Linked DNA regions of Homo sapiens. The protein of the gene in region 1 purifies or fractionates together with the protein of each later gene. This does not show direct contact. Each region holds a gene or a part of one and is shown on either strand. Other genes may lie near its edges.

Evidence for each region. The genes of interacting proteins can lie anywhere in the genome.
Region 2: the proteins of RCN1 (region 1) and VWA1 purify together in Homo sapiens (affinity purification with mass spectrometry; 3 studies listed by BioGRID and IntAct, with this or other methods). This does not show direct contact.
Region 3: the proteins of RCN1 (region 1) and SPECC1L purify together in Homo sapiens (affinity purification with mass spectrometry; 3 studies listed by BioGRID and IntAct, with this or other methods). This does not show direct contact.

What each region holds. Positions count from the first base shown.
Region 1 is NC_000011.10:32,086,046-32,094,193, forward strand, and holds the start of RCN1 (reticulocalbin-1 precursor), read left to right. Parts: upstream 1-5,028; 5' UTR 5,029-5,151; coding exon 5,152-5,405; intron 5,406-8,148. UniProt on the Homo sapiens protein: May regulate calcium-dependent activities in the endoplasmic reticulum lumen or post-ER compartment.
Region 2 is NC_000001.11:1,430,889-1,438,999, forward strand, and holds the start of VWA1 (von Willebrand factor A domain-containing protein 1 isoform 1 precursor), read left to right. Parts: upstream 1-4,801; 5' UTR 4,802-4,860; coding exon 4,861-4,933; intron 4,934-6,038; coding exon 6,039-6,596; intron 6,597-8,111. Other genes in the region: uncharacterized protein LOC107985729, read left to right, coding at 2,345-2,400, 3,075-3,183, 3,308-3,514, 3,648-4,262. UniProt on the Homo sapiens protein: Promotes matrix assembly. Involved in the organization of skeletal muscles and in the formation of neuromuscular junctions.
Region 3 is NC_000022.11:24,322,824-24,330,140, reverse strand, and holds part of SPECC1L (cytospin-A), read right to left. Parts: coding exon 7,223-7,317; intron 5,922-7,222; coding exon 5,714-5,921; intron 1,296-5,713; coding exon 1,222-1,295; intron 1-1,221. UniProt on the Homo sapiens protein: Involved in cytokinesis and spindle organization. May play a role in actin cytoskeleton organization and microtubule stabilization and hence required for proper cell adhesion and migration.

The DNA of each region.
Region 1 (8,148 bases):
GCCTTTACTGCGTTTATCATTAGTCTGAATAGAAAGACCTTTAAAATTAATTTTTTAGAAAGCATTTGAATGCATTCTTTGCTATTGTATTTATTCAATAAAGTATTTAATTAGTAAAAAGATATTGTCTTCTGCAATATCTAACCTTCTGTTAATCTTATATGGTGTATTTTTCATCCCAGATTTCAAAGTTTTGCTATCTAGGCTTTCAATTTGTGTCTTTTTTGTATTTTCTCTGGCTCTTCTGAACTTTTAAAACATTTAACACAATTACAATAATTGTTTTAATGTTCCTCTCTGTTAAGTCTAATATCTGTGTCAGTTCTGGGTCAGTTTTTACAGACCGATTATTCTCCTCGCTGTGTTTTCCTGCCTTGCTGTGTCTTTGATTGGATAATGCAAATTGTGAATTTCACCTTGTTGGGTGCCAAATTTTTTTTTTTTTTAATTCTTGTATGTTTTCTTGAGCTTTTCAGGTCTTGCCTTTGTGCTTTGAGAGGCACTTTCTGGAGCAGTGCTCAGTCTAGGGTTAATTATTCCCCACCACTGAGGCAAGACCTTACTAAGTACCCAGTGCCCCATGAATGATGAGTTTTTCCAGTCTGACTGATGGGAACAGGTACCATGCCTGGCACCCACTGTTCCTTCTAATCCTTTCAGATGGCTCAGTCCTCAGCCTACACGCATGCACTGTTCACCACTTTGCTGAATGGCCAAGGGGATCCTCTGTGGAGCTTTGGGATTCTCTCTCTGTGCAGCCATCTTCTCTCCAGTACTCTCTCTTTAGAACCACGGCTGACTTGGTCTCTCTGGACACTCACTTCTGTCTTTTCAACTTCAGGAGTCTGCCAGGATCCATCTTAGTTCTCCCTCTCTGCACAGTGACCTGGCAACTCTGCCAAGGTAATTCTGGGGTAATCCTGGGACTCACCTAGTTTGTTTCCAATGTTGTTCATTGCCTGGTGTCCAGTGTCTTGAAAACTGTTGCTTCATATATTTTGTTTGTTTGTTTCAAATGGGAGGATAAATCCAGTCCCTCCTTCACTCCATCTTGACCAGAAGCAGAAGTTGGTAGCTATTGTTATTTTATCATTCATTCAAGATATTTTAGGGGCACCTACTATGAGCCAGGCACTATACTAGGTTGAGTATACAGTGGTGAGCCAAAAGAATATGGTCCTGGTCTCACAGCAAATCTGTCTTATGGCGATCAACTTCTGCCAGAAGGCAGTAAATATGGTAGGCCCTGGATTTACGAACATGGACATGAATCGGCTGTGATCATTTCTCTCAAGGAATTCAGAATTAGAAGGGAAGAAAAATTAATACAAAGCTGACTGTGAGAAGTATGTGAGATACAAAGGCTCTGGGCATATTGATGAAGAAATAATTAATTCTGATTTAAGGTATAAGGGAAAACTTCATGGAGAAGGTGACATTTGAGTTGGGACCTGAAAAGTTCATGTAATTTTGAATGGTGGAGAAGCAGGAGGGAGGTAGAGATGCTGAAAGTGCTTTTAAACATGTGGCAGACACAGCTATTTGGCTTGTTCTTCCTCGCCCACAGAACCCTAATCATGTGCTTCAGAGGATGCTACATACAGTACTTTCCAGCTCCTACCAGTGAGTCTTGATTGGTTGAAATCAATCATGGAATTTCTATTCCCCATGCCTGTCACTGGATCCAGCATAGGCACATGACACAATTCTGGCCAATGAGATATGAGGGACAGTCTGCTGGGAAAGTTTATTTTTCAAAGAAAGGGAGAGAACATTCCTTTCCCCTACTGTTTCTGAGGGAGAAACAAAAACAAAAACAAAAAAACCTGATTCCTTGATGATGTCCTGAAACCACTGAAATTAACCAATCTGAAACCAATATAACTCATGACTTCTTGTTGCATGAGATGGTAAAGTTTTCTTCTTGTTTCAGTAACTTCTGGTTGGATTTTTGTTGTAGTTGATGGTGTTACTTTTGGCCAGATGCGGGAGACCAGCATACCCTAAGCTGATCAGTTTACCCATTTGAAACTCGCTTTTCCTTTTCACTGAATCAACCCTCTGCTAAATGTTACTTATCTTGTTCTTGTTCCTCTGCTTCATCAAGAATGGAGGTTAACCTAAGACCTAAGGCATGACAATGCACTTAGTCACTCTTCCCAAACATGCACATGGGGGGGAGATGCAAAACAGCTTTGAAAATGAAAGAAAGCAATTACACAGTGCAATACCTTGACTATTCTGTCCCATCATCCTTCCTGAACCTTTGATTGGGAGGACTTGAACTCTTATGGTAGGGTGGAGGGATGAAAATAAATATAAAGGAAAAGAGTGTAGGCAAGCCCAGGGGAAATTATGTAAATTCTTCCGGATTCACAGCAGTGCTAGAATTCTCTGGTAATTCCCACAGGAGCCAAGACTACCTCTGAAACAATCTAACTGTTGGAAACCACCAGTGTCTGGCAGGAAGCCAACTATAACAAGGGCAAAAGATATGCCTTTTTGGAGAGTCTGGACCAATCCCAGGGACCCAGGCCAGCCTGTGGCCAAAGTTGTGAATATGCAAAAACTGTCACCAGTCTCCACTCGCTTTCCCGTTCCCTTCCTAGTCCCCTTCTTTTTCTAGCCCCAATCTTTTTCTCCCTGTTCCTCCTCCCACTCCTCCTTCTCCTCCCTCACTCACTCAACAATTCATATCCTGCTTGCCTGATGAGCACAGAAGGTACTAAACCGCCTACCTTAGGACACTTGCATTTCAGCAGGGAGCTCTTACACCCCCAAGGTAATGCTCCTCTATTGCTAGAAATTCAGATCTCTAGGCTGGCTGGGGGAAGCATGTCTGGTCTCAGGCACAGTACTTCTTGTGCCATGCAAAGTCAGCTGGTGGGAAGGGGGGGATCCAAGGAAAAGAAGGGGACTAGGAAGAGAAGCGGGGATCCAAGGACTGGCTTCCCAGCTCTCACTGCCAGCCAGTGGGGTCACAAAGACATTGCCTCAAATGTGGAGCTGTCCTCTGCTAGCTCGTACAGGATCTTATCCTTCTCTCACATAACTACATCCTTCCATCTAGCTTATCTTACTCACCTTCAGTCTCAATTTAAATGTGTCTTCCTCTGGGAGGCCTTCCCTGATTGATTCCCATGTCTGGATCGGTTCAGTACCCCCAGACCACTACATGCCTTTCTCTGTGAGCACTTGTCATGCTGACTTGTGATCCATGGATCTCAGTTAGCCAGAATCCAGCACAGCCTGACACTTAGCAGGTGCTCAGTTTATGGAACGAACGAACGAATGAACATCTGTTCATATACACTATAGCTCTGCAGACACCATGATTATCTTGTTCTCCATTGTACCCTCAGCACCCAGTCCAGTGCTTAGGCTGTAGTAGTAAGACAGTAATGATTTATTAATTGATTGAAAGAGGGCGTCCCAAGAAAGGGACTTGCGTCTATGTTGCGACGACATCTTTATTGCAAGGGCAAGAAGCACATCCCAGACCTTTTTGAAAACATCAGGGATGGAGGTGGGAGGCAAGGCAAGATGGAGGAAATTTCTAGGAGTACAGATATTTAGCTGTCATGGTGGGTTTCCCTCTTCAACTATCGTTTCAGTTTTCTAGGGTTTTTTTTTTTTTTTATGGAGTTTCTCTCGTTTCCCAGGTTGAAGTGCAATGGCATGATCTCGGCTCACTGCAACCTTCGCCTCCCAGGTTCAAGCGATTCTCCTACCCCAGCCTCCGACTAGCTGAGATTACAGGCGCCCGCCACCTCGCCCAGCTAATTTTTGTATTTTTAGTAGAGACGGTGTTTCACCATGTTGGCCAAGCTGGTCTCGAACTCCTGACCTCAAGTGATCTACCTGGCTCCGCCTCCCAAAGTGCCGGGATTACAGGCATGAGCCACCGTGCCCGGCCTTCTAGGGATTCTTAACCTGGGGCTCATAGGTGGGGCTTCAAAAGATCCATGAATCCTCCGACTCTTTAATCAAGCACCCGTGTCAGTAGCTGTATGTGCATTTTTCTGGAAGAGGATCATGGCTTTCAATGAGTGTCAAAAGGCTGAGACTGCTCGAGACCTCACCGTCCAATACGGTAGCCATTAGTCCCGTGTGGCTCTTTAAGTTTAGATTTAAATTAAAATTTCAGTGCCTCACTTACACTAAGCTACACATCAAGTGCTCAACAGCCACTACCTACAGGCCAGACCAGATAGAGGGCATTTCCATCATTGCAGAAAGTTTGATGGGACAGATATCTGTATTGGTAGCATTACCAACTGAATACAGGTAAGATTGGATCCAACTAGTGCTTTTGTAAAATGAGTTACCAACATTTAGAAATAAAACATAAAAATCTAAAATCCTGATTGATTTCATTTGGGAAACAGGACTATCTATCAGCGTGGGGCCTGCGTTCCCCTGGCAGCTGGAACGCACAGTACCGCTCCCTTTAGAGGGACTCTTGGTCATATAGAAGTTCCCCGCTTGACCCTCCTTGACGACTGACAGTACGACCCTCGTTTCTAGGGGACTTCGCCCGTCTTGGTCTCCTTCCAGGCTCGCGTTTGTAACCAGACTCCAAATTTTACTAAATGGGGTTGAATTGGGTTTGAGAGCACATCTTAGAGCAGGGTCTAGGGCTGAGATTCGGGGTCTCAGTTGGAAGTTGAGGAAGGGCAACGTCTCCTTCCTTACAGTTTTCCCGGAACTGTAGGAAGTCAGAGGGAATTTTATCCTGCACATCTGTTGCTTGACAAAGAACTTCCCAATCCTCCTCCGAGCCCTCCAGTCCCTAGCCCAGTTCGCCCGGGCCCGCCCCTAGCAACAAGATCGCGGGGAGGGGCCGAGGCGAAACACGAGCCCCGCGCCCACCACCCCAGCTGGCGACGTGGCTCCGCGGCCCCGGCTTCCCCCGGCAGCTCAGCGACCAATGGGCGCGCGAGCGGGGCCGCCCGCAGCTTCCCAGCCCGAGGCCCAGGCGCGCCCCTCTGCTCCGGCTCGGGGCGGGCACTGGCGGAGGGACTGGCCAGTCCCCTCCTCCGCGCCGGCCCCAACCCTGTCGCTGCCGCCGCGCTCCGAGTCCCCATTCCCGAGCTGCCGCTGTTGTCGCTCGCTCAGCGTCTCCCTCTCGGCCGCCCTCTCCTCGGGACGATGGCGCGCGGTGGCCGCGGCCGCCGCCTGGGGTTAGCCCTGGGGCTGCTGCTGGCGCTGGTGCTGGCGCCGCGGGTTCTGCGGGCCAAGCCCACGGTGCGCAAAGAGCGCGTGGTGCGGCCCGACTCGGAGCTGGGCGAGCGGCCCCCTGAGGACAACCAGAGCTTCCAGTACGACCACGAGGCCTTCCTGGGCAAGGAGGACTCCAAGACCTTCGACCAGCTCACCCCGGACGAGAGCAAGGAGAGGCTAGGGTGAGGCCGCGGCCAGGGCCCCGTGGGGGGCGGCGCAGGTGTCCGAGGGCCGCCTGGGCGAGAGCCACGCGGGATACCACCGCCAAAGCGAAAGCGAAATCGCGCGCGCGGCCTCGAGGATGGGGCCCTGCCCAACTCGGCGCTGGGGCTCAGGCTAACTTGCTGGAGGGCCCCGGGACCCCAGCTTGGAGATCGCCGCCGCCGCGCCCCGGCCGGGGTGGTTTCTCGCGGGGAGGCGAGAACGTGGCAGCGGCCGCGGGAGCCAGGACGGCGAGGGCCCGCCCCCTCCCCCAGGTTGCATCAGAAGGGAGGGGAGAGTGCACAAAAGAAGAGTTTGTCCACAGTGGCCTGTTAGTGCCATGAGTTCCTCCCCACTCTCTCGCAGTTTCTCTCTGATCCCCCACTCCCGGGGAGAAGGGCTTGAGACACTCGCTAAGAAAATCTCAGGGATGAACATAAATGGATAAAAGATGAAGGGGCAGGCGAGCGACAGGCTTGCTTCCTGGTCTCGGCCGCAGTGGTCTTGCCTTTTGCCTAATCGCCCTGTAAATCTATCGTAAGGAGTCTGGGCGCGGTGACTCACGCCTGTAATCCCAGCACTTTGGGAGGCCGAGGCGGGGGGAGGGGTGGGGAGATCACCTGAGGTCAGGAGTTCGAGACCAGCCTGACCAAACGGCGAAATCCCGTCTCTACTAAAAATACAAAAATTAGCCGGGCGTCGTGGCACACGCCTGTAATCCCAGCTACTTGGGAGGCTGAGGCAGGGGAATCGCTTGAACCCGGGAGGCGGAGGTAGCAGTGGGCCGAGATTGCGCCACTGCACTCCAGCCGGGGCTAGAGTGAGACTCCATCTCAAAAATAATAAAAATAAAAATAAAATAAAATCTAGTGTAGGGATACAAAAATCCGGTTGAAAAGGGACACGCAGTTTCCGATTGGAAACACGAGGGAGCAGGAATGGAAACGGTTCGCCTGAAACGTTTCTGTTGGCAGCAGATGTCTGCAGAAGCACTCAGTTCTTTGGCAACTGATTTGTTTGGGGGGCAAAAAGCTGGAGGGTTCTCTTGGTGGTGGAGGATTTTGACTTGGGCTGTTAAAGGCAGTTGAGTCAGGAACCAAACCCGGGAAACAAAACTTCGGCGCATTTTAGTACACCCTCCCCGGGTCCCCTGAGGAAACACTTGGGCACTGTGCGGAGGTATCTGGTGGTCCTTGCACAGAGGACCCAGCAGGCAGCCTGGTCCCAGATGGAGGCAGGGCTGGGGAAGAAACCAGCAGTCCTGCCTATTGGGCACCAGGTCTCAGATCTCCCTGAACCTGATTCCTGGGGGTGGAGGATCTTCATGTTCTGCCACATGAAAGAGAACACAGCCATCCCTGTGCTCCTGGGGGCCTCCAAAGGCCAAAGTGTTTCATTGGAATATGAGGATAAATTATACCTATTGTGTAGGTGCACCATTTGCCTGCTCTGATAAAAAGACCTTTGAACTTCAAAGTCACCTCCAAACAATTACCTTTTATCTTGCAGAGTACTTTCTCTTCTCAGTTAGGACTTAACAATAGGGGCCATTGATGAGTTCAGTCTATTGTATTGCTTTGAGGCACTTGGAGACTGATTTATCCTGGAGCCCTGAGTGGCAGCCACATTGTCACTGGAGAGGAGGCAGGGAGAGGTTTTGGGATTTGGAAAACTTTATAAGGTGTGGTCATGCAGCTTCCAGTTAATGCCTTCATTGTGACAGTTCAGCCTAGTAGTGAGAAAAAGTGACGGTGAAGTTGGTCTGGATTTGATCCTTGTATCAACACCTTGACTTCATTCATTTATTCATGCAACAAACATTTGAATGGCTACTGTGTACCAGGCCCCAGTTTAGATAACTGGCAGGTACAAAGATGAAACCTTATGCTCTGGGCGTCGAAGTGCTTGTAAGCAAATGTGGAGGAGAGAAGCACAGACAAACTAGCCATTATGCACAATTGCTGCAATGATGGCCTATAAAACCTACTGTGAGCACATTCAGGAGAAGGAGCCGCCAAGGCTGCAGGTTAGAGAGAGGGGATTGGGGCTGTCACCTGATCAGAGTTTGTAGGATGACTTGGAGGTTGCCAGGTGTACAGCAGGGGAAGGCCTTCCTGAAGAGAAAACAGCCCATTTCTAAAGGGTTTGAAAAGCGTTCTGGGGCATGAGGGGTGGTGAGTCTGCAAAGGGGCAGGGAAGGGAAGTGAGAGGTGAGAATGGAGGGGAAACCAAGGGCAGAGCAGGAAGGACCTTGGTGAGATGGACATGAGATGTTATCCTGTACATTGTCAAAATGTCATAATCCCCAAAACTCATTGGGAAAGTCAGGCTGGCAGGAGGGCAGTACACAGAGAACATAATCAAGGCACAGACTAGACCAGTGGCAGGGAGAGGAGGTGAATGCCAAAGGGGCTTGGTCTCTCCGGATTCCAGGAGGGGATGAATCTAGACACCAGTGGGAGGCAGAACTGGCAGCTCTTGCTCTTGACTCAATGAGGGGGAGAAGAGAGAGGTAGGAATCAAGGGGACATCCGGGTCTCTGGCCTTAGCCACCAGATGGGTGATGGATGCACCATTCACTTGTAGGTTAAATGTGGGGTAGAGGCGGGGTAGGAGGTGCTGGAAATTATGGGTCCTGTTTGGGATGGGGCTGAGTGTGAGAAGCTGCCCCTCTGTCCAAAGCTTCTGTTTCAGTGGTCCCCTCCAAGATTGGGCTGAGGAGGA
Region 2 (8,111 bases), on another chromosome or scaffold:
GTGGGCGGTTCACAGAGGGATGTAGGAACGTGCCTGTGGGAGGCCGTAGCCCCGGAGAGCAGAGGCCTGGCCGGCGGAAGAGAAGCAAGGAAGGGGCGATTCAGGAAGGCCAGAGCCCGAGTGCCGGGGCAGGGGCCCCACCCCCTCACCCCCTCACCCCCTCACCCCCTAGGACAGAAGAGGCCCTCCGTTGGAAGGCAGGGGCCCCACCCCCAGGACAGAAGAGGCCCCACGTTGGAAGGCAGGGGCCCCACCCCCTAGGACAGAACGGGCCCTGCGTTGAGGCCCCTGGGTTCTTCCCCCGGGTTCTTGCCTGGCCCCTTCCATGGATCCTAAGCAGCTCCCTTATCGGCCACCATCTGGGAAGCCAGGAGGGGGGCATGAAATGAGGGGGAGGTGGGGCCCCCAGCCAGGGTTCCCCTCCTCAAGGCCCCAGGTATACAGTTGGCCTTTGCCCAGCCCTTCTAGCCCCTGCAGGGGCAGGACCCCACCTGGACCCCATGAATCTCTCCCAACTTTTGCCCAGCATGGTGTCCCTGACCGAAACCCCTCCACTTCAGGACCCTGGGTCCCCAGGCCCGCCCCCACCCTGAGGGTGCCTCTACACCCCTTCCCCCAGAGCCCCTTCCCCCAGCCTGAGGGCCAGGAGCAGCCTCCCTCTTCCTGCAGTCTCTACCACAGCTCTCCACTGGCCCAGGGGCCTGAACTCCTTGGGTGCAGCCGAGCTGCAGGGTGGCTGTGGGGACCTCTGCTTGGCGTTCTTTCCCGGTGGCTGAGGCCCCTGCCCTGCCCAAATGGGAGCCCGGAGTGTGTGTGTGTGGCTGTGTGTGTCCCATCTGCGTCCCTGTCACACGTCATGCCGGAGCAGGGGAGGCAGTAAGGGGCCCCACCCCACTGGATGCAGTGGGCTTCCCACCTTGCCCGGTGTCATTTCCTGATTTGCAAAATATTTCCTGGGAGCAGAGTTGTTGGCAAGCACAGCCTCAGACGGTGTGAGCAGCTGGGGGACCCCTCAGATGTGGCTCCCTCTGTCCCTCCGGCCTGTGCTGGCCTGCCCCTGCCCCCAGGCCTGTAAGCTGGGCAGGCTGTGGGGCAGGAACTCCCCAGGGTGAGTGGGCTGGTCTGAGGGCTAAGGCCCCTGCTCCCAGCTCCGCCCCACCCGCCTCTGGGAGTCCCTTGTGGTGTGTGGACATAGGTCAGTCCCTCCCTGCTGCCTCCTCCCTATCCCAGTCCAGGCCCCTGGGAGTTTTGCGTCTGCCCAGGGCTGTGGCCTGGGCCTGTCTGGACTGTGTCTGGGGAAGGGGCAGCATGTGGTCCTCCTCTCCCTTTCAGGGAAGGATGTCCCAGCAGAGAGGCAAAGTGAGGGGACCCACACAAGGAAGGGGCCCTGCTATTAGGAAACCCTGGGTCATTCAGGCCTGCTGCTCTCCGGCTCCCACCGGGCCGGGCTCTGTCCTCGCTGTGACGAACCTCCTGCCCCTGTCGAGGCCGGCAACACCCTCCACCCGGCCACCCCTCCCGAAGGCCCCCAGCCTGCTCTGCCCCTGCAGTCCTGGCGCAGGCCCCTCCTGCCCACCCCACCCTGCTCTCAGCACTCGCGGTTCCTTCTCTCTGCCTGGAAGGCTCTTCCTCGGGTACCCCTTGCGTGCGAGTCCCCAGTGACCCCCTGTTCTCACAGGGAAAACAAGTAGACCGTATCTTTCCTAGCTGTTCACCGCCCACCCTCCTAGCCTGGCAGTGCTGGCCCGGCGCCTGTGTGTCCCCAGCACTGAGGCTGGGGCGCGGCTGTGCCCAGCACACAGACGAGGGATGGATGGACAGACGCAGATGGTGCAGCTCCCACCCCTACCCAGGCTGCTACCCGCCAGGTGTCTACCCGCCACCCCAGCTGCTGCTGGCACGGGGGACTGAGGGGGGTCAGCTCTGGGGCCAGAGGGGCAGGCCTGGGCTCCTGGGAAGTGAAAAGTGACCCCCGAGGCCCCCAAGACCTGTCCTTGACCCCAGTGAGCAGGTTGAGTCTAGGAGCTGCGTGGGCCCTGCTCTCTTGGTGACCCCTGCTCTGCCCCACTTACTGTTGTGGGGTGGGCTCAGGCACACCCCAGAGCAGTGCCTCAGGCCCGCACCGCTGCCCCTCACCGCCGCTGCCCCTCACCGCCGCTGCCCCTCACCACTGCTGCCCCTCACCGCCCCGTCCATCTGCTCCTGTGTGTGCTTGAGTACGTTTGTGAGATACGTGAAAACAGCAACAAAAGGCGCCGGGTGCGGGCCTGGGCGTCCTGCCCTCAGCTCGGGTCAGGGGTGGGGTCAGAGGCCTCAGGAGTTGCCCTTTTACCCAGGGTCAAACATGACCACAGCCAGCTGGGGACAAAAGGCCCTTCATCTTCTGCAGAAGCCTGGATTGTGCGGAGGAGGGAGCATTCCCAAAGGCGGGTGGGGGCAGGGGCGGTGCCCGGGTGACAGCAGCCTCCCCAGCTTCCTGGAACTCTCTCCACCTGCCTGCAGACAGACCGGCAGGGCAGGCTGGCTCCGGGAAGTGAGGCACAGGGACTCCCACAGCCCAGGCCCAGACCGTGGGGGCGGGGTGGCCGCAGCCAAACCAGGCTGCTCCCCACCCCATGGGGCCCCAGGCCACCAGGATCAGACAGGGGCTGTGCCTGCAGGAGGCAGAGGGCTCGGGGCCAGCACCCACTGTGATCTGGCCTGACCCGTCCTTGCCTCTGCCTCTTACCCCGGGCCCTTCTCCCTGGAGAGTGGAGGGTTCCGGCTGTTATATTTGTGCTTCCTCCGGTGTCTGCCTCAAGTCCGGCCCGGGCCCTGACACTGCACCTCTGGCTGACCCCATGCTCTCTGGGACCCTCTGTCCACGTCCCTCCTCCGGGGTGGAGACAGCGGGGGGAGGGCAGGACACAAGAATGAGTCCTGAAGACTGAGGGGCACGGGGAGAGCTGATGGGGAGGGTCTCCTAGCTGGAGGGACTCCAGGCAGAGCCGGGAGCAAGGCAGGTGGCTGAGCTCGGCCCAGGCTGGGTGGAGGCCAGGCCTCCTGTGCCTTCTCCCGCTGATGGCGAGCTGAAGGGAGGAGGGCGGCCGCTTCCTTGAGGGCCTGAGTCACAGCCAAGAAGACCCGCTCACTTTTTCCAGAAGTGAGGGAAACTTCCCCGTCAGCCCTGCAAGGCTGGCTGAGGTGTGACTGTGGCCCGCCTGCTGGGCGAGGGTGGGGGACAAGCGGGCCACTGGCTGTGAGCCTCCCCAGGGTGGGGGACCCTCGGCCCAGCTCCCTGCCTGACTACCTGGACGTGCCTCCGCAGGGTCTGCAGCCAGCTTCCGGTCAGACCCCAGGTCCTCCAGCGGCTGCGGCCTTCAGCGTCATCTCCACGGCAGCCCCTGTGTACTGGGGGCTGGGGGGCCTGGCGAGGCCCCTCGAAGTGGTACAGCTTGCACTCTGGGGACCCAAAGTCCCCCCACCGGGCCCAGGCGGAAGCACCAGGCATTTCTGGTCCCAGCCGAGGTCTGAGGTCTGTGGAGCGCAGCCAGCACCTCCACTGCCAAGATCCCCGGCAGGGGGGGTGGGGGGCGCCGGCGGGGACACAGCTCTCCCTTGTTCCTGCCGCCAGCTCCTCAGCCTCAGCCTGCTGCTTCCTTTTTTAGGCAAAGTCGAGTGCTGGCCGTCCGCACGGCCCCGCGGTGTCTCACCTGCCTGAAAGGGAGGAAGGAAGCCTGTGGAGCCCCATCCGTTCTCCCGCGGCGCATCCTCCAGGAGAGGGTGGGGAAGGAGGAGACATCCTGGCAGACACCCCCCCACGTCCCCCACCTCCCAGCTCTGAGCTGAGGAGGCCCTGGAAGAGGGCCATGGCTACTCCGAGGGAGGGCCGGGGTAGGGTTCTCCTGTCCAGGGGACACTGCTGGCCCAGCCCCACCCAAGCAGGGGAAATCTGCCCTGGGAGCCACTGTCCCTCAGGACGCCCCCTGCAACCAGCCACCTCTCGTCTGGGCCTCACCAAGACCCCAAGACTCAAGAGCTCCTGTCTCACCAGTGGGACCCTCCAGTCCTGCTGGGGGTGTGTCCTGGGTCCTGGAGTCTGGGCCCCTCACTGGGTAGGGTATATGGGTAACAGGCCCAGTGTGGTCCCACTGGACAGGGCCTCAACCAACCATCTCCCACTCCCATGCCTCTTCCTCCAAGAAGCCCAGGTGGCGTGGGTGCTTCGAGTCTCTCTCGAATTCCTGTCTTCTGTCCCCTTTCAAGCCACTGTGTCCTTGTAAGTTCCACCCCATGGTCCTTCCCATCCCTGCTGGTCAGTCCCTGGGATACATGTCCTGTTACTCCAGACACCTATCCGCCTCCAGCGCGGAGGCCAAGGCGAAACCACGGTCTGGACGTGTTTTTTTGGTGCCACCGCCAGCCCCTGGGGTTCTCTTGGGCCTGGCTGCTGGGACCCCAGCACCCAGAGTCACGGCAGTGGTGGGCATGGGGAGGGCCTAGCCTGGTACCTCCCTGCTCGGCTCCCGCGGCTGGGGGTCGGAGAGGGGTGGAGAGCGTGGGCCGCACAGCCTCGGCCGGGAGAGGGAGACTGGAGTGTGTGTGTGTGCGTGCCTGCGCGTGCGTGCCTCGGTCGTATCTCGGCTGGTGCTGCGTGTCCCTGCGTGTCGGGGTCCGCTCGTGCGCGCCTCTCCGGGGTCTGTGCGCGTGGCCCTCCGCTCGCGCCGGAGGGCGTGGGCGTGGCCTCGGCGTGGGTGTGGCCGCTCGGGGAGGGGCCTCCCGGGGGCGGGGCCGGCCTGGTCCGCGCGGTGACGCGCCCTGCAGCCCCGAGCGAGCGAGCGAGCGAGCGAGTTGCCGAGCGCGCCCCGTCCCTCGCGCGCGATGCTCCCCTGGACGGCGCTCGGCCTGGCCCTGAGCTTGCGGCTGGCGCTGGCGCGGAGCGGCGCGGAGCGCGGTGAGTGCGGCGGGCGGCCGGGCCGGGGCTGGGGCTTCTGGTGACCGCTCTGCGCCGCTGCCCGCGCAAGGCCGTCGCTGTCCCCTGCTCCGGACGGGCGGGCGGGCTGGGAGGCTGCGGGAGCCGGGCGGGGGCGCGGGCGGAGCGTCCTGCTCACCTGAGGCTGGCGGCCCAGGTGCTCCAGGCGACACCGTCCGTGAGCGCCGGGGCATAGGGGCCGTCCCGGCCCGCATCTCTGCGGGATCGCGGGCCTGGACAGGAAGAGGGAGATGTCTGTCAAGGGGGCACCCCTGCCTCAGTTTCCCTACCCTTGCGAGGGCCCTTAGTGGAGGGATGGTAGGGAAGTTGGAGTCGCCCCACCGCACTGGGGAAAACCGCAAGGCCGGGACTAGAATTGAGGCACGCTGGTGCCCTGGCTTGGTGGGGAGGGGCGGTGTAGGGGGCATCAGCCTCCACCCCGGAGGTGCCCGGAGGAAGGGGGAAGCCTGCGAGGGGCTGTTCCGGCTTTCAGGCTGCTGGGGGTTATATCTTGTTGTGTGAGTCCAGGTGGGCTGGAGGATGGAGGCCAGGGGAGGGGCCACCATCTAGTAAGCGGGGTCTGGGCTCCAGCCAGGCCATCCGGCGTGGTCATTGCTGTGCCTCCGACACCTTCCCCTGCTGCTGTGTGCATGCCCAGGGTGCCTCACCTGCAGGCTGAGCTGCGTGGCTGAACTCCAGCCTCAGGCTGCTCCTCTGAAAGCCATGCCTGGAGGGAACAGCCCCACGGCTCAGGCCTGTCCTGGGGGCCTAGGCCAGGACTCTTGGCTCCACCTGCTTGCAGGGTCTGTGAGGAATGGGAAGGTGTGGGGGCTTGGAGCGGAGAGTCGCCCTCTCACAGATGGGATAACACAAGCCCAGAGAGAGCCCTAGATCCCATGGCCAGTGTGCAGTGAAACCCCCAAAAGTACAGGCCTCTTGCTTAGAGTTCCTCTTTCCCCCAACCTAGGACCTTTGGGAGAAGGCAAGCATCCACTTAAGGAAAGCTGGGGCCCTGGGGGACCCTGCCTTGCTGTGGGGCTGTCTGGGGGGCCCACACCTGAGGCTGAGCATTCCTCCTTTCCCCCAGGTCCACCAGCATCAGCCCCCCGAGGGGACCTGATGTTCCTGCTGGACAGCTCAGCCAGCGTCTCTCACTACGAGTTCTCCCGGGTTCGGGAGTTTGTGGGGCAGCTGGTGGCTCCACTGCCCCTGGGCACCGGGGCCCTGCGTGCCAGTCTGGTGCACGTGGGCAGTCGGCCATACACCGAGTTCCCCTTCGGCCAGCACAGCTCGGGTGAGGCTGCCCAGGATGCGGTGCGTGCTTCTGCCCAGCGCATGGGTGACACCCACACTGGCCTGGCGCTGGTCTATGCCAAGGAACAGCTGTTTGCTGAAGCATCAGGTGCCCGGCCAGGGGTGCCCAAAGTGCTGGTGTGGGTGACAGATGGCGGCTCCAGCGACCCTGTGGGCCCCCCCATGCAGGAGCTCAAGGACCTGGGCGTCACCGTGTTCATTGTCAGCACCGGCCGAGGCAACTTCCTGGAGCTGTCAGCCGCTGCCTCAGCCCCTGCCGAGAAGCACCTGCACTTTGTGGACGTGGATGACCTGCACATCATTGTCCAAGAGCTGAGGGGCTCCATTCTCGGTATGCGGGAGGAGGCAGGGCCCAGGGAGCCCTAGCTGGGAGCCGCAGAAGGAGAGGCTGGGTTGAGACTTTGGGAAGATCTCATGTCCCCAGAGCAGCGGCCAGGGCCTCCGGGGCTGTGGTACCCCTAGGGTGCAGGGCTGAGTGATGCAGCTTGTCTATGCACACTCTTCACTGGGCGACCCGTGTACCCTGCTGAGACGGGGGCAGGCTTGAGTAGCCACCTCCAGGTGTAGCTCCCTGCTGATGTGTCCAGCCCAGACCTCGAGGCCCCAGGGAGTGCAGAGCCCGGGTGTAGGCCCAGGAAGAAGCTTCCAAGTCTGGGGACTCTGCAGATGGGCAGCATGTGCTCCTGAGCATGCCCACCATACCTGGAGAGGGGTGAGCCAGAAAGGTCAGGGACTGCCCCCCCAGAGAGCACAGGGCACCTCTCCTGGGTGGGGACAGCCGCCGAGGGCTTTGAACTAGTTCGGACTGCAGGCCCACTGTGAGGGTTTCCTGAGAGGCCGGACCAGGGAAGGCCTGAGGCAGGAGCTGAGCAGCTCCCATTGGCTTTTTTTCTGGACCTCCCTGCCCCAGCCAAGCCCTGAAGGAGCTGGGGCTGGAGATGAGGAACCGGCCACTGGCTCAGCCTGCTGCAGCCACTGAAAAATGCCAACCCTGGGGATCTCACCAAGTCTCCGTCTGTGGGTTAATCATCCACCCAGAGCCGGAAGGGGTTGGACTGTGGGTTGGAGAGGGGTGGACGGCCCTCCCCAAGGTTTCCCCAGGGACGTCTGGCCCCTAGTGGCCCCAGGTCACCCAGTGCAGCTGCGCCTGGAGGGGACCAGGAGGAAAGGCTGCCTTAAGCAGCCAAAGGAAAAGCCTGAGGCTGCAGTGCCGAGGGGCCAGGCAGCAGGGTGGGGGCTCCTGGGAAAGAGGCCGGGTCTGAGGGTGGGGGATGGGAAGAAAGTGGCCCAGGCACCCAGCACTGCAGGAGGAAGATCCTGATAGCTTTAACCCAGCGCAGACATTTATGAGCCTCGCCACAGCAGGGTCACTCAGAGGGCTATGTGGGGCTTGGTGTCACAGGTCCAGGAGTCCCCCTCTGGAGAACCCCACCCCACACTCTCCTGGGGACCCAGGGCAGGCAGCGCCTCCAGAACCCCAGGGCCTGCCCCTGTGGTCTCCCATCTCCTAGCTGCAGCTCAGAGAGCCGGGCTGACCTCAGACCCCGGCCTGGCCACTCAGGCTGGGGCTGGTCCTCTGCTCTCAGGCACCACCGTGGACTCTGCCGTCTTTGAGGACCTTTGTCCTGGTCACTGATCTGGCCACTGCACCTCTCCACAAAGGACTGGGTTTGGGGCTAAGGGAGGCAGGGGCGCTTCTGACAGGGCCTGAGGGGGCTGCACCCTTTCCTCCGTCCTCCCCCAGCCAAGGCACGTTCTGAGAATCCCCAGCATCTGCGGGGCATGGCTCCAGCAGCTCCTTGGCCGCGGGGCCCCGTCTTTCCTAGTGGGGCCTCCAATCTCCAGA
Region 3 (7,317 bases), on another chromosome or scaffold:
ATTAATTTTTTTAATCCCAGAGAATTGCTAGTATCTATTTCTAACAGGCAATGCAACTATTATTAGTGAACTTGTTCTTAATAAGGAAAAGATTTTCCAGCTGATCTGCCTACTGAGGCATCAAGTACTCAGAGTGCTCAACAGATATTAATGATAATAATGTCAAGCTTCCCTTCTTCATGCAAGTTTCAAAGCAAGTCTTATGAAAATAAACATCATCCAGAATTTATGGATGTTTACCTCTGAAAAGCACAAAAAGGTATATAAATGGTATGTGAACCATACAGTGAAAAACTATAAATAGCCTGACATCAAAATCTAACAGGAAAAAAAAAAATCAAAAGAAAAGGAAGAGGAAGAGGAAGCCAGAAGAAAAACACTAAACTCAATATAGGCAGGCAAAATTATACAAAGAGGCGGTAAGGAACTACGTGGTCTGTTGCTTCCCACAGTCATGGAGGATGCGGGTGTGGCCGGGTGGGGAAGTCTCCCTGGGACTCACCTCCATCAGAGCCATAGCTGGGGCATGCCTGAGCCCCACGCCCCCTACACCCCTAAAGCAATTTTCTTACACCATGAAAGCAGCCTGAGCAACTGTGGTATGACCCAAACGACTGAGTAGCTTTCTCCCTACTCCCTGCAGCATGGCTGCATTGCTGTTGGCAAGATGGATCATGGCCACAAAATGAAGAAAACTTGTATGAAAACAGACTAGTTTGGGGCACCTTATAACCAAAAGCTAATAACCTTTCTTACACTTTTTCCCCAAATCTATCTTTCTAAAATTACTACCCATAAATTTCTACAGGTCGAGTATCACTTATCCAAAAGCATTTCAGATTTAAGATTCTTTGGATTTTGGAATATTTGCACTATACTTAACAGCTAAGCATCCCAAATCTGAAAATCCGAAATCCAAAATGCTCCAATAAGCATTTCCTTTGAGTATCATGCCATCACTCCAAGAGTTGCAAATTTTGGAATATTTTAGATTTCAGAATGTCTGGTTAGGGGTACTCAACCTATAGTACATTCTTCTACCCAAAATCTAGCACCAATCCCAATTTGAAATGATAGCATTTGCTTTCTGCCCAAAGCCCAATGGGGCCAGTATTATCACTGTATCCAAAACTTAAGATGAATGATAACATGGTCAATGACTACACCTCAGATTTCAGAAAACCGTTTTCTAACAAGACAATACATGAAGATTTATCCTACCCGAAGTCTTCTGTGGAGTGTCTTTATTTCTCTTTCCATGTCGTGCTTTTGGTCCTGGAGTTTTTTAACTGTATCTGAAAAGATCACCAAAGTTTAAATATCTATTCTCACAACAATCTTCAGAGTAATAATACAAAGAAAAGGGATACTTAAATATGACATTCGAAAAAAGTTATCCTGTCCAAAGACTATAAAAAATTTTAATACAAAACTTTAACAGAAAAAATGTTAAATTCAAGTAATAACAAATATTACTTTCTTTGGAAAATATCAAGTTAAAAATCACAATTTCTAAATCACTTCCTTCCACAGTATCTTAATTTTGAAACAAAAAGTAAAACCGTTAGAAATTCACTTTGTTGGTACATAACCAATCAAAACAATATTGACTGTGACTACAATATGAACTTTTAATCACAAGTATTATTAATCTGCAGTATTTATATAAGCATAGCTTTCCTTACACACTGGAATAAATTCCAGAAAAGAAGTGAATTAGTAAAATCAAAATTAGTAAAAAATATAATACTCAGGGTAGCTGCTGTTTCAATTAATTCTATAAAAATCTTTTTAAAAAATAAAGAATATATTTATAAAGTAAATCAATAATTCCTCAAATTATTTATCCGATAATGTGAATTTTCTTAGAACAATTTCATTCACTCTAAAAACATTCAATGAGCACCACCAATAAGATGCAAAGTACCATTCTAGATAGAGTGAGGATACAAGGATGAAAGTGTAGCACAGGCTAGTCTCCCTGGAACCAGAAACGTAAAGGGAAGTCACCTTCTCTTTGGAGGTTCTACTCTAAAATCCATGCATAAGAGATAAATGACTTAGGAGGGTGCTATGCTGATAGCTGCCACTAAGTAAACCGCTTACGGCTGTGTTACTTTGACAGCTCAGGAACCAATCACTTTTTGGTTAAGGGCAAGAAAGGGTACTTACACAACTGGTGGCAAATCCTTTACCCTGATTTACCTACAGCCCCACCCCAGTAGATCCCTGGCTGTTGTGTGTGTTCCAAGTGTGTCTTACACAGCCTTGTACCATGTTGCCGCCAATATTACCACATCTCGACACATCTGTCTCGACCACTAGACTAAAAACACTTCAAAGGCAGAAGAAGCCATGTGATGACCTCACAGACTCAGTAGTTGGAATATGGTATCTTTAAAATGGAATAAATTTATAAATGTGCCAGCTAATGGTAGCAGTAATAAAAAGTAATGCTGAAATCGTTACCTAGGTTTTTGTTTTTTTTTTAATAAGTATCCTATTGACAGAACTTAACGATTTATCATTAGGGAAAACATAACTATAGACATTAGTGTTTCTGGGTAAATAACATTCTCTCCCATTCCTTATACTTAGTAGCAGGAATTCAGGCATAGTGAACACCTGCTTGCAATGACACATGTAATCAAAAAATTCTTCCTCTAGCTAACACTTTATTGGCTTTTAATTAGGACCCTAAAGTATGAGTATGCTGATGTTCTTTCTTTCTTAGATGGCTCATCATCTTCTTTACCCCTGTTCCACTAGAACCTTCTCTTCTAAAATTTTTTTGCCATTATGCTTTACATTTGATGTTGGTATATGTGTGTTCTGATGTTTTTTTTTTTTTTTTTTTTTTTTTGAGACGGAGTCTCAATCTGTTGCCCAGGCTGGAGTGCAGTGGCATGATTTCAGCTCACTGCAACCTCTGCCCCCTGGGTTCAAGCGATTCTCCTGCCTCAGCCTCCTGTGGAGATGGGATTATAGGCGCCTGCCACCACGTCCAGCTAATTTTTGTATTTTTAGTACAGACGGGGTTTCACCATGTTGGCCAGGCTGGTCTTGAACTCCTGACCTCATGATCCACCCGCCTCGGCCTCCCAAAGTGCTAGGATTACAAGCATGAGCCACTGCACCCAGCCAGTGTTCTGGTATTTTTAAATGGCATGAATTCACTTTAACAACATAGAGCCTAGAATATTTACAACAATTATATGTGGAATAATAATTATTACAAATAAATAATAATGCTGTATTTTCTAAAGCTGGATCAGAAATAAATGGGATAAAACGTTGGCGGCAGGGGCAATTCTGGTAGGCAGTAGTTAACTTGCTCTCATTCACTGCCCCAAAACTGTGTAACAAAGTCAGGTCCTGTGAAATAAAAAGGTTCAAAATTTACTCTTTAATTTGATAAATGTGTCATATGTACCAACTTTGTACCAGGCTTTTTTCTAAGTGCTTAAGATGTAAAGGAAAGGAAAGATATAATCTTCATCCTCTTAGAGACAGAAAGGCTAGTCTTGTGTTGAGACAACAAGGGTAGATGACTTCATAAGCAAAAGATTAAACTTTAAAGCCTGTCTCACACATAAGGTACTTCAGACTCAACCTGCAAACGAAGAGTCAAACAGGCCATCTAATCTGGTTTGGGTAAAGCAGACACCAAGCTGAGTAGACGAGTCTAATGCCCTGATCCTTATCTCTGGAGGCAAGGATGGCTCTGGAATCAGCAAGGGAACTTGGTTCCTTGCGACCTCACACATAGACAAATTCAGGGTTTTGGACATAAGACGAGGAGTAAGGACAGAAGCTGAAAAATTTCTAATGTTGAAAACACTGGGAGTTACACCTTTCATTTACATTGTATCAATTTATATGCAAGAAATATTTCATAATCAAAACAGGCGGTCAGGCGTGGTGGCACAGGCCTGTAATATCTGCTGATCACCTGAGGTCAGGAGTTCGAGACCAGCCTGGCCAACGTGGTGAAACCCTGTCTCTACTAAAAATAAAAAATTAGCCGGGTGTGGTAGTGGGCGCCTGTAATTCCAGCTACACAGGAGGCTGAAGCAGGAGAATCGCTTGAACCCGGGGGGCAGAGGTTGCAGTGAGCCAAGATGGTACCACTGCACTCTAGCCTGGGCACCAAGAATGAAACTCCATCCCAAAAAAGCAAACAAACAGCAAAAAACAGGCAAGCAAACAAAAAATGTTAGGAGTGTAATTTCTCTTGAAATTTGCTGAAAATTGTTTTCTTTTTCTTGTCACAAAGGACATGACACATCTACTTACTGTTAAACATAATACACACATGACAAATGACAGCAAATCTCAGGACAGCTCACTTTTAACATTTGGCATTTTGATTCTCAGGTGACATTTTAAGCTACCTGGTCATCTTAGACTGATCATAAATTCTCAAGTTGCATTCATTCCTTTGCTCTTTTTCTCTTTATTGACCTTTTTTCATTCATGGCCACAGAATTCACATAATCACTGTTCTTTAAAAGGTGTTTTTCTGCCCCCGGCACTACATTTTTATTACTGTCACCTCTTATAAATAAATAAATAAATAAATAAATAAATAAATAAATAAATCCATTTAAGTAAAAGGGAAAGTGGCAGCCAGTGGAAATACTCAGACAGAATAAAATGCACTAAAAGTGTCTGTAGGGATTTGATTTAAACTTTACAATCTCTACAGTCATGACTACGTTTTTACTCTGAAATGGAATGTATTTTTTTTTCCTGGAAACAAAGGAATTTGTGCTTAAGTTCTTGTTGTGAAGACTAGTTTGCAAAACTGCCATCTAGCACGATTTGTGGTCACACAAGAAAGCAGCATTACTCTTCAACTCTCGAACCTCTAACAGCAGTTTCCTTCCTCTTCAGTGTTCCTACTGTGAGGGACACTGCCATCTACTGTCTTCAACTCAAAAGCAACATTCAAGTCGACCAAGGAAAAGAACTACTACTATGATCTTCCTATTTTTAAATTACAAATTATAACTCAATTTTTACAATGTTATTTTTATTCTAGAGATCAGGCAAACTGCTGTTCTCAATGTTATTAGACCAACTTTGTTCTGAACAACTCTGGGCACTGCCCTACTCATTTAATAATGGGTTCATAACTTTTGAGTCCCATTATTGATTATGAACCCCATTATTCTCTGACAAAAAATAATCCATTCTCGCTCTGGTTATATCTCCATCAATCATGCTGATATTGCCAGGCAGTTACCATGGACACAGGATCAATCTGTGACTTTTTCTTTTCTGTTTTGAAATAAAGTCTCACTCTGTCACCCAGGCTTGACTGCACTGGCACAATCTCAGCTCACTGCAGCCTCCGTCTCCTGGGTTCAAGCGATCCTCCCACCTCAGCCTTCCAAGTAGCTGGGATTACAGGCACCTGGCACCACACCCAGCTAATTTTTGTATTTTTAGTAGATACGGGGTTTTACCATGTTGGCCAGGCTGGTCTCAAACTCCTCAACTCAAGTGATCTGCCTGCCTTGGCCTCCCAAGGTGCTGGGATTACAGGTGTGAGCCACTGTGCCCAGCCTGGTTCGGTTTTGAACTCCCAAAGTGCTGGAATTACAGGCATGAGCCACCGTGCCCAGCCCTATTTTATTACTAAATGCAAATTATCCCCGCATGTTTAAAAGAGTAGGACAAAAAAGAATGAAAAGTTCTTATCACTTACTCTCTAGATCAGAAATAATGAGGTTGTCATGAAGTTTCACAGCACGATGTTGTTCTACTTCATCTTCAAGTTCAAAGATGGTTTCTTTCATGTCACTCCTTTCTGTTTCTTTTTCATCCAGGTCTGATCTTAATTTTTCTAACGTCATATTCAAATCTTCAATTTGTTTCTTAGCTTCTTCTTGGAAGGCTCGGTATTCATCCTCTACCTACGTAAAATTGACGATGCAGATTTAGAAAAGTTAAGAGTTGTTCTAAGGTACGTTCCAGAATTGAGGTACACACAGTTTCCAAGGGGAGCTAAGTATGAGGCACTATGGATAAACTAAAACAACCTGTGTAATAACTGTTAAAAAGTATGAAAAAGCACTCCATGGTAAGATTTTATCTAATACACTTAAACTGTTGCTGTAACACTGACTGAAATTATATTGATGTATCATTGAACTTAACCTGATTATTTACAAGGAAACTTTGGAAATTTTCGTTTCTCCTAACTTTGGACTGAAAGCATGTACGTTTGTTTAATGATTAACATGTTGTCCTAACAAAAATGATGTCATATTTGTGACGGTTCCAGTATCAAACTGAAAAAGGGAAAACAATTCTCAAATAGTGTTTTTACAAAAGTATTAGTTCACAGTAGCCTCTCAACATGTATGTGCCAAGAACTAATACAAATCTCCTAAACTGTAACTTTAAAAGTGATCACTAAAAACACCCTAAAATCTAAATTACTCAAATTTTAGCCAAAGATATATGAAAATTTATTTTAAAATCATTGCACTAAAATAACAAATAAATAAAATGTAAGCTAGAATAACTAGTATAACTAGAATAACTCATGGAAATAAACAGTTCATCAGCAACCACATGGGGTATAGATAGATCCCTGGCCAGAATGCCAGTGGCCCTGGGTAGCAGTTCCAACTGAGTCCTCACTATTATGCTGGAGGCATGTACAACAAGGGTCTGGACTGATAATTGCTAAGGTCCCTGCCAGCAATAAATCACAGGCCTCTGAGAAACAGGAGCCTCTATATGCCAAAAATATTTTTTAACTATCAACAGATCTCTATTTGAAAAACTATTACTATAGCAAGATAAGAGGAAACATGCACTGCTGATGCTACAGACTGGAATACTGACTCTCCACCTATTACACCAAAACAGATTCGAGATGAGGCGGGGGGAGGTAAAATTTCATGACCCGCTCCATAGGAATACTCAGAACTAGGGACAAATTCTGGTTTTAGCTGTAATACCAGCCATATCCTCTCACAGGCAGGAAAACAGAAACAAAATACAAGTGAGAGAAAGTGACATTATCTTAAGAATACTTTTCACACTATTCCAATAAAAGGAAACCATTCCCAAGTTTTAAAAATATCAGTTTTAAAAAAAAGCTAATAACACACCAAACCAAACCAGTAACCCAGGTTCTCAGTAAACACTGTGCATGGCAGCTGCCTAATGCTGTCCGGAACATTTTAATCTATTTAAACAATACCTTAGCAATGGCATCCTGTAATCGATTGGCATCATTTCGGGTATGAGCCAGATCTTCCTGCAAGCTACTAGCCAAAGTCTCTGCTTTTTCTTTGT